3 separate regions of the Homo sapiens genome follow, and regions 2 and 3 are each linked to region 1. The links come from fine-mapping of genetic effects on gene expression. A gene starts in region 1. Each other region holds a variant in brackets. All regions are shown on one strand. Distances are between the middles of the regions. Region 1 holds the start of MIATNB (MIAT neighbor). Region 2 overlaps MIATNB (MIAT neighbor). Region 3 overlaps MIATNB (MIAT neighbor).

The links. PIP is the estimated chance that this variant, and not a neighbour inherited with it, causes the effect. A credible set is the group of variants that fine-mapping cannot tell apart.
Region 2: its variant is the best candidate, but not a certain one, in a credible set for the expression of MIATNB in whole blood (INTERVAL, PIP 0.65).
Region 3: its variant is the best candidate, but not a certain one, in a credible set for the expression of MIATNB in whole blood (INTERVAL, PIP 0.84).

What each region holds. Positions count from the first base shown.
Region 1 is chr22:26,670,398-26,674,630 of GRCh38, forward strand. MIATNB (MIAT neighbor) reads left to right here and starts at 2,446. Exons shown (of 6, transcript NR_110543.1): 1 at 2,446-2,590. MIAT (myocardial infarction associated transcript) reads left to right here. Exons shown (of 5, transcript NR_033320.3): 5 at 1-4,233.
Region 2 is chr22:26,727,157-26,731,389 of GRCh38, forward strand. All of the region lies in intron 2 of MIATNB (MIAT neighbor), which reads left to right. Among named protein-coding and RNA genes, the nearest start is that of MIATNB, 56 kb to the left of the region's middle. The variant T/C (reference allele first, on the strand shown) is at 2,201.
Region 3 is chr22:26,746,066-26,750,298 of GRCh38, forward strand. All of the region lies in intron 2 of MIATNB (MIAT neighbor), which reads left to right. Among named protein-coding and RNA genes, the nearest start is that of MIATNB, 75 kb to the left of the region's middle. The variant C/T (reference allele first, on the strand shown) is at 2,346.

The DNA.
Region 1 (4,233 bases):
GCCACAAAACAGTCTACTGAGGCACAAGTTCTGAGTGCCTGGGAAGTGGTAGAGAGACCCCAGAGAGGGCTGCTGCAGTCTGGAACAGCTTCCTAGCAAGCTGTACCAAACAGGGCCTTGAAGGATGAGAAAGATCTGGCTGAGATGATACCCGACCCTCTAGGGAAATTCTTAAAGTAACTTCTAGGAAATGTCATTGCTCCTTAAAAAAAAAAAAAAAAAAAAAAAAGCAGGTTCTAATTCAAATTCCGCTGCACTACTGAAGTAGTGCAGGACTTATCAGAACCTTTAAAATGCTAATGGCAATTTCAAATACTCAGGGACAGGGCATAGGATGAAGTGTTCCTTGACTTTTATGGCCGTAGAATCTTTTTCTCATGGAACATCGTTTAGAACTGTGGGAGATGCTAGGCTGGGGTTTCTATGGGAAAAGTACAGCAGTGATAGAAGATGGCATAATTAGGGTACACTTAGGTGCTTTGTAGCATTGGCTGAAAAGGAAGCAGACCGGGTGGGCGTGGGGGAGTCTCAACTTGGTTCCAGGAGCCAGGCCAGCTTGATGCGTTTTTTTTTTTTCTAATGGTGGGAGGGCAGGCCAATAGTTGGAGAAACTAGAGGCCTGACAGTCGGTGATGGAAGAGATGTCTACTAAGCACGGTTGTCAGATCTTTTGCGGAGAGATGCGGGTGTGCGTGTGTCTGTCAGAGTGTAACAGGATCCAGCCCTCTGGGAAGGGGCTGACCAGAACCAGGCAGGGGGTTTCTGTCTAGGACAAGTAGGGTCCATTTTCAGGGGAGCTGAAATATTTGCAGGGGGTGCTCTGAGACCCACAGCCAATAAATAGGGAAGCAACATGCTTTTGGGCAGGGTCCATGTGGTTAGGGTTGATTTTGATGGGGCTGGGGGGCTTAGAGTTAGACCCCCTGCCCTGGTCAGGCCCCACTCCCTGGCTGGTGGGGGCGGGAGGCCTCTGAAGCTGCAGCTGGAGGGGCCGGGGCAGTGTTGCATGGTGTGATTAACCTACTAACCCAGGGCTCAGCCGGGACGCTGTGGCGTGTGACGAGGTGCCTGGCCTTCTGCCAACCAACTAACCCACTAACCAGGCCCGAGCATGCCCTACTAACCACCCCCCCGCAGCCAGATCCTACTAACTGTGCAGCTCATGGGCCTTTCAAGGGGCTGGGATATGGGGGCAGCCAAGGCTCCAGAAGGCTCTGCCTATGGGCTGGGATCTTTGTGCAGACCCACGTTCCAGGACAGAGAATGCAAATAAGACTCACCAACTCTGCCACTTCCTGTTGAGTGAGTTTGAGTAAGTCACCTCACTTCTCTCAACCTCAGTTTCCTCAGTGGTAGAATGCGAGTTCTGATACCTTACAGGTTGCAGTGAGGATTCCCGTCAATATAAGGGTCTCAGCACATGGCAGACACCTAAAAAAAAAAAAAGTATGAGGATGGAGGAAGGCCCCTCAAACCTGGTTGAACACGTCTGCTGCCTAGGCCCTGGCCTCTCTGGGTGTTCTGCACACAGATCCTTCTGCCTGGGGCAAGACACTTGGCTTTGAATCCATGTCACTTCCCCACATTCTTCCTCCGTCTCAGCTTTCTTTTCTGTAGGCAGCTCTTTTGTTCGATTACTAACCCGTCTAACCCCTGGGGTGCCTCAACTGCACCCCGATCATCCCTTAACAAACTAACGGACCTGCGTGCGTTCTTCCTTTTCTCTTAGCGACTCCTGTGTGTGTCTGCTGAGGTGCCCTGTCCGCTGGTGCTGTGCTCTGACTTACTAACCCAGCCCCTACTAACCCTGTTTTCTCTTCTTACTAACCCCAGCCCTGCCGAGCTCTGGGCTCCCCCCGGGGGCTGGTCCCCCTCCTTTTGGCAAGCAGATGACCTGGGGCTACTGGCCCTGTAGACAGATGTCCCACTTTGCTGCCCCATATTGGCTGTAAGATCAGAGTCCACTGGGCCAGGTCTAAGGCAGGGGATGGCCCTATTAACAAGACTCAGAGGAGGAAGAGGTGGTCCTGTGGATGTGGGAGGCTGGACTCTGAGTATGACATCTCTCCTATGTGCAGAAGTCTGGTTGCCACTGGGAGTAGGTGGGACCAGGGAAATCTCTGGGACGTGAGTGTGGAGGCCTGTTGGTCTAGACTCTAGACTGTGGAGCTCTGAGCTTTTGTGTCCTCTGGAAGGAAGCTGGGGAAGAATCCTCTCCATTGTTAAGTGACGGGGATAGAAGCTGTCCTGCACAGGAAGTCACGAGGGGGGCGTATCCCACGAGGAAGGCAGGAGGGGGCGTGCCCCTCACCGGAAATTAGCAGAGGGGCGTGTCCCACACCGGAAGTCAGAAAGCGGAGCCTTTCTTACACCGGAAGTCAATGAAGCGGGTCTTTCCTACGCTAAAAACCACTGAGTGGAGTATTTAGTACACAGGAAGTCGGCCAGAGAAACATTTCTCATATTTGAAGGCCGGAAAGAGGGACATTTCTGACACCGGAAGTCAGTGAGAGGACTCTTTCCCACACAGGAAGTCAGCTAGAGAGCCGTCTCCCCTCTCTGGAGCCGAGAGAGGCCGGTTTCCCCCACCGTAAGTAGACGTGGGGCCGTGACCGGAAGTCCTTGGGAAAGATCCGTCCCATTCCCGGAAGCTAGAGGGCGTTAGTTGTCGGGTTGAAAAGGGGTGTGGGGAGGGGAAGCAGCTTTACCCCGGGCTCGGAGTTTGCAGGAGAGAGAAGTGGGGAGCAAGAAGTGAACCTCAGGGGCTCACAGGGTTCCCGCAGATGCTCAGGCCGGCCAGGAATGCATCTCTGGCTCTCTGTTCCCACGGACGTCACTGCCTCAGCCAGCCTCCCCCAGAGCCCGCCAGCCGCTAAGCCGGGGCCACACCTGGGGGTGATTTCATGCCTCACCTCCAGTAGGCACCTTGGTTTCTTTGGGCTAATCTCTGGCTCCCTTGCGCTAACTCTTGCTCTCACCCAGCTAATCCCTGCCTCACCCTGACTGCCCCAGGGGCTGACCACTAACAACCAACCTGGCCCTGTCTGGGGGTTCCAGGCTCCTGGCCTGGCCCTGACCGGTTCTTAATTAACCTTTCCTTCACCTTGACTAACTCCTGCCTTCCTGGTCTGTTCCTTTCAGCAGAAACTAATGGTTTGTGGATTTTTTTCTGACTAACAACAGGTCTAACATTCCTCGTTACTGTTAACAGCTTGGATGTCGGCATGGCTGGGAAGGGGCTAACACAGCTTTGAACTTGGCTAACACAGGTTTGAACTTGGCTAACACAGGTTTGAACTTGACTAACACAGGGAAAAGCATAGCTAACAATTTTGGGCGTGGTGGCTGCTCTGAGTCAGAACAATCAGAAGTCGGTAAAGATGGTAGTTTTCTAAAGGAGGTGCCAGGGCTCTGGTGTGGACCAGGCCTGATGGAGCAGTGGTACCCACCAAGGTGGGGTCAGAAGTATAGCCAGTCTTGCAAGGTTTTGGCCATTGGGCATATCTTCACTCCTCATAGTCTGCATTTGGTTTCAGTTCTTAAAAAAATATAGCCTTATAGCTACAGTAGTTTGCACAAGTAGATGCAGCTCTTATAAACCTTAAAATACCTGTCTGGTGTCTACAGAGCATATGCCATTTTGTATAGAGTCACCCTTCCCCAGGCCAGGGCCTAGAGTCTTCATTTTGGGGACTTTGTGTTTTGGAAGTTCTAGGACATAAAGCTTTAGATCAGAGTATTCAGAAGGGTTATAACTCCGTCAGTCATTTACATGTTAGTAGTATAAATTATCTGAGCTTCCTGTTCTAACTTTTAGCTCTTCTAGCATAAACTCTTCTGTGCAATTTAGCTGCACCGAGGAAACGGGAGTTTTTCTGGAAGGGACTTTTGATCTCTTTAGACTGAGGGAACGTCCTTTGGGAGTAGAGGGGCAGGGAGCATACGCAAGGGATTCCAGGTGCAGGTAAAAGGTGGCACTAGTTCAAGGTTTTGCTGACTCAGTCTGGTAGTCAGAGTCTGCAGGAGAAGACAGTTCAAGGCAGGGCCTGGAGGATTGGATCAGTTTAGGGACAGGTCAAAGGCTGGCTTACAGACCTTAGAGGCAGGTTGCTTGGGTCGTTGAATGCTAGTCTGGTGCTGAGAGCCCTTTTCTCTGGCAACTGTGGACTCAGAGCTAACCAATTGTAGTTGGCAGTGGGGGTGAAGGGTGATCCAGAGGCCTGAGCTGCAGAG
Region 2 (4,233 bases), 57 kb after region 1:
TATGTGGACTTGTGCCCCATCTCCTAGGGGAGAAGCTCTTTGGATGACCTATTAATAGTATGAGAGGTGTGTGTTAGTCCATTTTGCATTGCTATAAAGGAATACCCAAGGTTGCGTAATTTATAAACAAAGGAGGTTTATTTTGGCTTACAATTCTGGAGGCTATACAGGAGGGATGGCGCCAGCATCTGCTTCTGGGGAGGACCTCAGGAAGCTTCCAATTATGGCAGAAGGTGAAGGGGGAGCAGGCATGTCACAAGATGGAGCAAGTGAGAGTGGGAAAGAGGTGTCAGTCCCTTTTAAAACAACCAGATCTTGTGGTAACTCATTACCATGGGGAGGGCACCAAGCCATTCATGAGGCTTCCACCCCTATGACATAAACACCTTCCACTAGCTCCACCTCCAACATTGGGGATTACATTTCAACATGAGATTTTCAGGGGAGAGGCAAATATCCAAACTATATCAAGGTGTATGATGCATAGCAAAGGAGACAATGCCCAAGGCGTGATAGCCGGGGGACTTGGTGGGCACTGGATGGAGGATTTGGAGGCCCAGATTGGAGAGCAAAAGGAAGAACTTGAGATTGAGTGTCTTAGTTCGTTTTCTGCTGCTCTAACAGAATACCTGAAACCCAGCAATTTGTAAAGAACAGAAATGTATCCTTTTACAGTTCTGGAGGCTGGAAAGTCCAAGATCAATATGCTGGTACCTGGTGTGGGCCTTCTTACTGCATCTTCACATGGCAGAAGGTGGAAGGGCAAGAGAGGGGTGAACTCTGTGTCCTCACATGGCAGACAAGCAGAAGAGAGTGAATACACTTTAGCAAACCCTTTTCATAGTGGCATTAATCTATTCATGAGGGTGGAGCCCCACCTCCCAAAACTGCTGCATTGGGGATTAAGTTTCAACATGATTTTGGAGAAGACAAAACATTCAAATCATAGCAATGAGTGTAGGACGCAAGCCAGGTAACCTCACTGTATCAGTGAGCAGTTGTACCCTCACTGTATCAGACCAACGTTGGCTACAAATTTCCTGCTGCAAAACATGAGCTCTCAAATGGAAAAGAAATGAAGATAGTTCATGCCTTGTCACATGCAACAAAAACGTTGCTTTATTTTGTCTGGGAAGAGCAGAGAGCCACTGAAGGATTTTGAGCAGTGCAGCGATGGAGATAGGTTTTGAAGGTCATTTTGGGACTGGAGCATGAGGCAGCAAGACAGCAGAAAGTCACCAAGTGGGGTCCAAGCTGATTCCATTGGCTTATTAGTGAAGGGCTCTAATCCTGCCAGGGGCTGGTGCCACAGAGTTGTGCCACATGTGACAAAGGACATGCTCCCTGAGCCAATCTCTGGACTCTGCAAGTTCAGTGCTTAGGGTCAATCACTCATTCCAGAAATGTTTATTGAGCACTTACTTTGTGCCAGGCACTGTGCTAGAACTCGAGGTGGACACAACCATGAGCAAAGAGGCAAACAAATCTATGCCATCATGGAGCTTGCAGTTTGAAGAGTTCCTCAACTGGGGCAAACCCAGTGATTGTTTCTCAATTCCTTCACTGTTTGTTCAGCTCCCTTGACAGCTGGTCCATTCCGTCTCAGGCTATACCTAGCACACAGTGAAAGGAGAAGGGCACCAGACCACAAGGTTTCTGTTATGATCCTGGTCTTGAATATCATGACCTGAAGAAACCTTTACTTTTATTATTATTATTACTTATTTATTTTATCTTTATTTTTATTTTTTTGAGATGGAGTCTCGCTCTTGTCATCCAGGCTGGAGTGCAGTGGTGTGATCTCAGCTCACTGCAACCCCCCCCTTCTGGGTTCAAGCGATTCTCCTGCCTCAGCCTCCCAAGTAGCTGGGATTACAGGCACTTGCCACCACGCCCAACTATTTTTTTTTGTATTTTTAGTAGAGACAAGGTTTCACCATGTTGGCCAGGCTGGTCTCAAACTCCTGACCTCAGGTGATCTGCCCCTCTTGGCCTCACAAAGTGTTGGGATTACAGGTGTGAGCCACCGCACCCGACCTGTTTTTATTTTTATTTTTTAATTTAGTTTTTTGGGACAGAGTCTTGCTCTGTCACCGAGGCTGGAGTGCAGAGGCACGATCTCAGCTCACTGAAACCTCTACCTCCCGGGTTCAAGCCATTCTCCTGCCTCAGCCTCCTGAGTAAGCTGGGTCTACAGGCA[T/C]GTGCCACCATGCCTGGGTAATTTTTGTATTTTTATAGAGATGGGGTTTCACCATGTTGGCCAGGGTGGTCTCAAATTCTTGACCTCACGTGATCCACCTGCTTCAGCCTCCCAGAGTGTTGGGATTATAGGCGTGAGCCACCATGCATGGCCAGAAGGGACCTTTAAACCCCTAGAGTACACACACATCTTTGCAGCTGGGAAAACTAAAGCCTAGAGTGGCCAAGTAGCTTGCTCAAGAGCACACGGCATTAGAGATAGGGCGGGGAAAAGAGCTCTTTCCACTATTTAGTCTTTTAATATATTTTTGTTTGTTTTCACTGGTAATTATTGAGTGTCCACTGTGTGTGAGGTCTTGGAAACGCAGATATGAATAAGTCGCAAGGAGTCCCTATGCCCTTGAAGCCTCACCATCTAGTCTAGTGTAGTCCAGTGTAACTTTCAGGGTGATAGAATCATTCCATGTGGTAGCCACAAACCAAATGTGACTGCTGCAACTGAAATGTGCCTGGTGCAACTGAGGAAGTCTTAACTTTATCTCATTTAAATTAATTTAAACTTAGGCATCCACATTTGGTCAGTGGCAGCTGTGTTGGACATTGCAAGTCTAGTCTATGGTCACATGACCTCACACACACACACATTGATATTGTTTGGCTGTGTCTCTACTCAAATCTCATCTTCAATTGTAGTTCCCATAATCCCCACGTGTCGTGGGAGGGACCTGGTGGGAGGTAATTTAATCACAGGGGCATTTACCCTCATGCTGTTCTGGTGATAGTGAGTGAGTTCTCACTAGATCTGATGGTTTTATAAGGGGCTTTTCCCCCTTTGGCTTGGCACTTCTTTGTCCTGCCACCCCGTGAAGAAGGACATGTTTATGTCCCCTTCCACTATGATTGTAAGTTTCCTGAGGCCTTCCCAGCCCTGCAGAACTGAGAGTCAATTAAACCTCTTTCCTTTATAAACTACCCAGTCTCCAGTATGTCTTTATTAGCAGCGTGAGAACAGACTAATACACACAGTCATGAACTGTGATGAGTGCTGTGATAGATCAGAACCACTACATTGTGGGTCCGCAGGACCACTGACAGGTTCCATGAGTGATTTCAAGTTCTTTACTAGAAGGACTCCCAGAACTCAGAAGACCTGTTATCCTCATGGTTATGGTTTATTACAACAAAAGGATTCAGATTAAAATCTGCCAAAGAAAAAGGTGCATAGGGCAGGGTCCAGGAGAGACTTCCAGTTGTCCTCTCCCAGTGGAATCTTACAAACATGCTTAATTCTCCCACCAATGATGGGTGACAACATGTATCGAGTGTTGCCAACCATGGAAACTCACCTGAGCCTTGGTGTTCAGGGTTTTAATTGGAGGTCAGTCACATAGGTGTGGAGTTACCTATGGAATGACCTTAATTACTTGGTCACCAGCCCCTCCAGAAGTCAACGTGATATAATCACATGGTTACATAGATTGTCTGGCCTGGTTTGGCCCAAGTGCCCAGGTATACAAAGACACTTGAGTTAGGGAGGATACTGCAAGAGCTTAGAGTTACTCTCCCAGCAGTCAGTCAGGTGCTTTCTTTGGAACATGCAGGGTGTGAACACCGTAAGTCTGCTAAGTTAACCCTTTAATGCACACTAGGAATCTATTGGGGAAAATGACGGGGGCTTTGAAGCTTGGAGATTTAGAGAAGGTGTTGCTTGTTGCTGACCATTTCATCTGAGTAAGTTATCACCCTTCTCAGTGGCATGCTCCTACCATTTGACTTATTGTAATTTATAATTTTTCTATTTATCTGCTTGTTTACTTGCTTTTATCTGCCTCGTTTGCTAAACTAAGAGCTCCAGGAGGGTAATTTGTGTGTCTGTTTAGTTTCCTCAGTTTTCCCAGGCCTTAGCATGCTTAGTGTGCTGCTTTGCAGGGCCAACACTAGGAAATGAACCAAATGAGGCACTGTTCTGGGGTGCAAAATTTAAGGGGCGACAGAAGCAGTGATAAAAAAATCAGTAATCAAGATAAATAATGT
Region 3 (4,233 bases), 76 kb after region 1:
GTTCATGTTTACTGTGTACAGAAGTTCTGTTTGGCAAGATGAAAAAATTCTGGAGCTGGATGGTGGTGACAGTTGACAATAATGAACTTAATGCTACTGATCTGTGTACTTAAACATGGTTAAAACAATACATTTTATGTTTGTTATATTTTACCACAATAAACAGCTACTTAAAAGTCTCTAGGCTTCTCAAGTCCTTTCCATGGAATTGAATGAATGCTTGTTTCTTTATTTGGACAAAACAAAGATGACACAATAATAGAGTGAGGATGATGATGATGATGGTGATGATGGTGGTGACAGTAACAGGTACAATAAATTGTGCTCCTAGAATGACCCAGGTTTGATTCAAAGTGTTTCTTATGCATGAGCACTGTAAGTCCACCTGTGAGGAGGAGATTATTACATCTGTCTTAGGAATGGGGAAACTGAGGCTCAGAGAGGTTAAGTGACTTGCCCAAAGCCACACAGCTTAAACCCAAGGCTAGTTGACTTTGAAGCCCATACTTCAAACACACCCTCTCTGTATCTTTATCTTATTTAGAAGGTAAAACAGCCACAGGACCTTTTCAATGACAATTCCTTGCCATTTTCCTCCCAGGGTCACCTTCCAGCCGCAAAGCCACAACACTCCCACTTCCTTTGCCTCCCTTGGCTCTCACAGAGCTTGGCTAAATCCAGTGCTAAGACTGAGTTGTCAAACAGGAGATAGAAAGAGAGAAAAAGCAATTTCTTCCATTTCTTGGCTCAATCCTATGCAGTCAATACTGTTAACAGTAAATCAAATAACAAGACTGCATTGACCCAGGAAAAGGCCAAGAAGAAAAAAATTCAGAGCAGAATCCAAAAAAGTAGAAAATAAAGTTCGGCCATAGGCATAAATCATACCTGGAGAACTGAGCCCACAGCACCAGCCTCAGGATGAGCCTGAGCTGCCCCCGAAAGCTGGGTCCCAAAGACCCCTGCTTTTGACTTTCAACTTTCTAGGACCCCTGTTTCTGGTAGATCCAGGGGAAAGGAGATCGCTCAGGGACGGGTTGAGGATATCTGATTTGCGGTCCCTCTGATTTGGGATGTCACTCCTCAACCCTGGGCTGAACTGGGAAAGGGGATCTGCAGAAAATGACTTTGGGAGAAAGTCCCCTTTGACTGCTCCCCTAACCCCTGCATTCCTTCTGGCATGCTGATCTTTTCAAGTTTCACAGTGCTGGATGCCGGCTCCAAAAAGAAAGAGGTTCACATGCTCTAAAAAGTATTCAATCTTGTCTGAGCCATGTTGCTGCCTGAACTATGGCTTCTTTAAATTAATGGAGTCATTCAACAAACATTTATGAAGCACCCACTGTATGCCAGGCATTGTTCTAAGGCCTTGGGGATTTAGCTGGGAACAAAATAGACACACATTCCTCACTTCACTGAAGCTACATCCTAGTGAGTGGTGGAAGATGATAAAACAAGGTTTGTATACTATGTTGGACAGTAATAGATGCTATGAGGAAACAAAGAAGGTAAAATGGGTTTCGTGTGTTTGTTGGGGATGGGGAGAGTCCAGTTTAGTTAAGGAAAAGAGACATTTGAGCAAAGACTTCAAAGGAGGCGAGGATGTGAGCCGTGGGGGTATCTGGGAGAAGGGTGTTTCAGGGACAGGGATCAGCAGGTGCAAAGGCTCTGAGGCAGGACGTGCTGGGGGCCTTTTGAAAAAAAGTGAGATATTACTGGAGGAAGTGAAGGGAGAGGGTGGCAGATGGTGAGGTCCAAGTTGGAGAGGTGACCAAGGGACCAGATTCTGTAGGGCCTCTGGGTGGATGCAGGGACTTTGGCTTTCCTCTAGGTGAAGTGTGGATTGTTGGGAAATTTGGAGCTGCAAAGGGACCTAATCTATTGGGTTTTAGCAATAAATGTTTACTTGTCAGTTTCTTCAGCCATGTGCTCTGACTAGTTAAGGTCATTAAAAAAATAGATGGAATTGCATGGGAATTTGTACATCCCTGAGAAGCACTCTCTGTGAAAATAACCTCCGATGCCCTGGCACATTCTTGGCTCTCAATAAATGCTCAAACATATTATTTGACCATAGAGAGAGGTCAGGATGGATGTTCAACAAAGAGTTAATGGTGCTTCCTTGGGAGAGTAGCTGGAATGAGTGTGGCAAGTAAAGGTTAATTATCTCTTTTATTTCTCTTTGTATTCATCAGATTGTTTTTTCAATTTTTATAGCTTTTTTGTTTTTTGAGATGGAATCTCACTCTGTTGGCCAGACTGGAGTGCAGTGGCGCAATCTCGGCTCACTGCAACCTCTGCCTCTCAGGTTCAAGTGATTCTCCTGCCTCAGCCTCCCAAGTAGC[C/T]GGGACTATAGGGGAGCACCACCACGCCCACCTAATTTTTGTATTTTTTGGTAGAGACGGGGTTTCACCATATAGGACAGTCTGGTCTCGAACTCCTGACCTCGTGATCTGTCCACCTCGGCCTCCCAAAGTGCTGGGATTACAGGCATGAGCCATTGTGCCTGGCCTATAGCTTTTTTTTTTTTTAAGGCAAGTTGAATGGGTGGGTGAAGACTAGGAGCTCTGTTTTGAGTTCTGTGACCTTGGTTCTGCCACTTGTGATTCTGAGCATTCATTTGCTCATATTTTTCACGAGTTAAAACTCTAAACTCTAATAGCTGCTTATGAAGTTTTAGGGGGGATAACAATGTAAATGGAATACGTTGTTCAGTGCCTGGCATAGAAATCAACGCTGATTTTAGTTTGCAAGGAGCCATGTAAGGTTTTTAAGGAGAGAAGTGAAGGCAAAAGATCTGGGTTTTAGAAAAAAGGATCACAGGGGTGTCCGTGCTAGTCTCCAACTACTGCTCTGAGCAAGCTTGGCCTCCTCCCTCTCCCTGGGCAGCTAGGGGCAGCTGGCCATTCCTTCTCCCCTTGATTTCCCTACCCCAGCCTAGTCTTCTCCACCCTTCCTGGGGAAAGCCAACCCCTTGCCTGGCAGGCCTCCCGGCAACCAAAGGACTTCTTTGAGGGAAGAAGCCACGTTACCCAGAAAAAATCAATAGAATCTTTTTCCAGGCAAATTTCAGAGACTTGTGAGAAGCAGCAGCAGCCTGGGAACTTGTCTCCCATTCAGCGTAGGAACCTCTTGCACAGCATTTGGCTATGAGGCCCTCAAAGTGGACACGTGTTCGTATCTCCTTTTCAGCAACTGCCCCGCTTTCTGGTAACAGCATGCCATCTTCCTTGAAAAGCCACCCTTGGCCATGCCAAGCCCAACAACATGGGTAGAGGTGACTCCTTCTCCTCCCTCACTGGAGGTAGGCATGGCCAGTGAACCAGGTCTGAGCCAATCGAGTACTGCTGCCCTCAGCCTACAGTGATTGATTCAGAGATGAGACTCAAGGAGGGCCAGCCGCAGGATTTTGGTTCAGTCTGATGATGTAACAGTCAGAGTGGACTGTGATATGCTGCAATATAACTAATACCTCCTAAATTCTCAGTTACAGTGACTCAGGTTTTTAAAAATTTTTTTTATTAATTTATTAATTTTATTTTTTATTTCAATTGGTTTTTGGGGAGCAGATGGTGTTTGGTTACATGAATAAGTTTTTAATGGTGATTTCTGAGATTTTGGTGCACCCCTCACCCCAGCAGTCTACATTATACCCAATGTGTAGTCTTTTATCCCTCACCCCCTCCCACCCTTTCCCGTGAGTCCGCAAAATTCATTCTGTCATTTTTATCCCTTTGTGTCCTCAAAGCTAACCTATCACTTGTAAGTGTGGAATGTTTGGTTTCCCATTCCTGAGTTACTTCACTTAGAATAATGGTCTCAAATGCCATCCAGGTTGCTGTGAATGCTTCGATTTTATTCCTGTTTATGGCCGAGTAGTATTCCATGGTGTATATATATCTATATATCACCTTTTCTTTATCCGCTCGTTGATTGATGGTCATTTGGGCTAGTTCCATATTTTTGCAATTGCGAATTGTGCTGCTATAAACATGTGTGGGCAAATATCTTTTTTGTATGATGACTTTCTTTTCCTCTGGCTAGATACCCAGTAGTAGGATTGCTGGATCAAATAGTAGCTCTACTTTTAGTTCTTTAAGGAATCTAGTGGCTCAGGTTTATTTTTTATTTTTTATTTTCTTATTTTTTATTTTTAGATGGAGTCTTGCTCTGCCGCCCAGGCTGGAGTGCAGTGGCACAATCTCAGCTCACTGCAACCTCCACCTTCCGGGT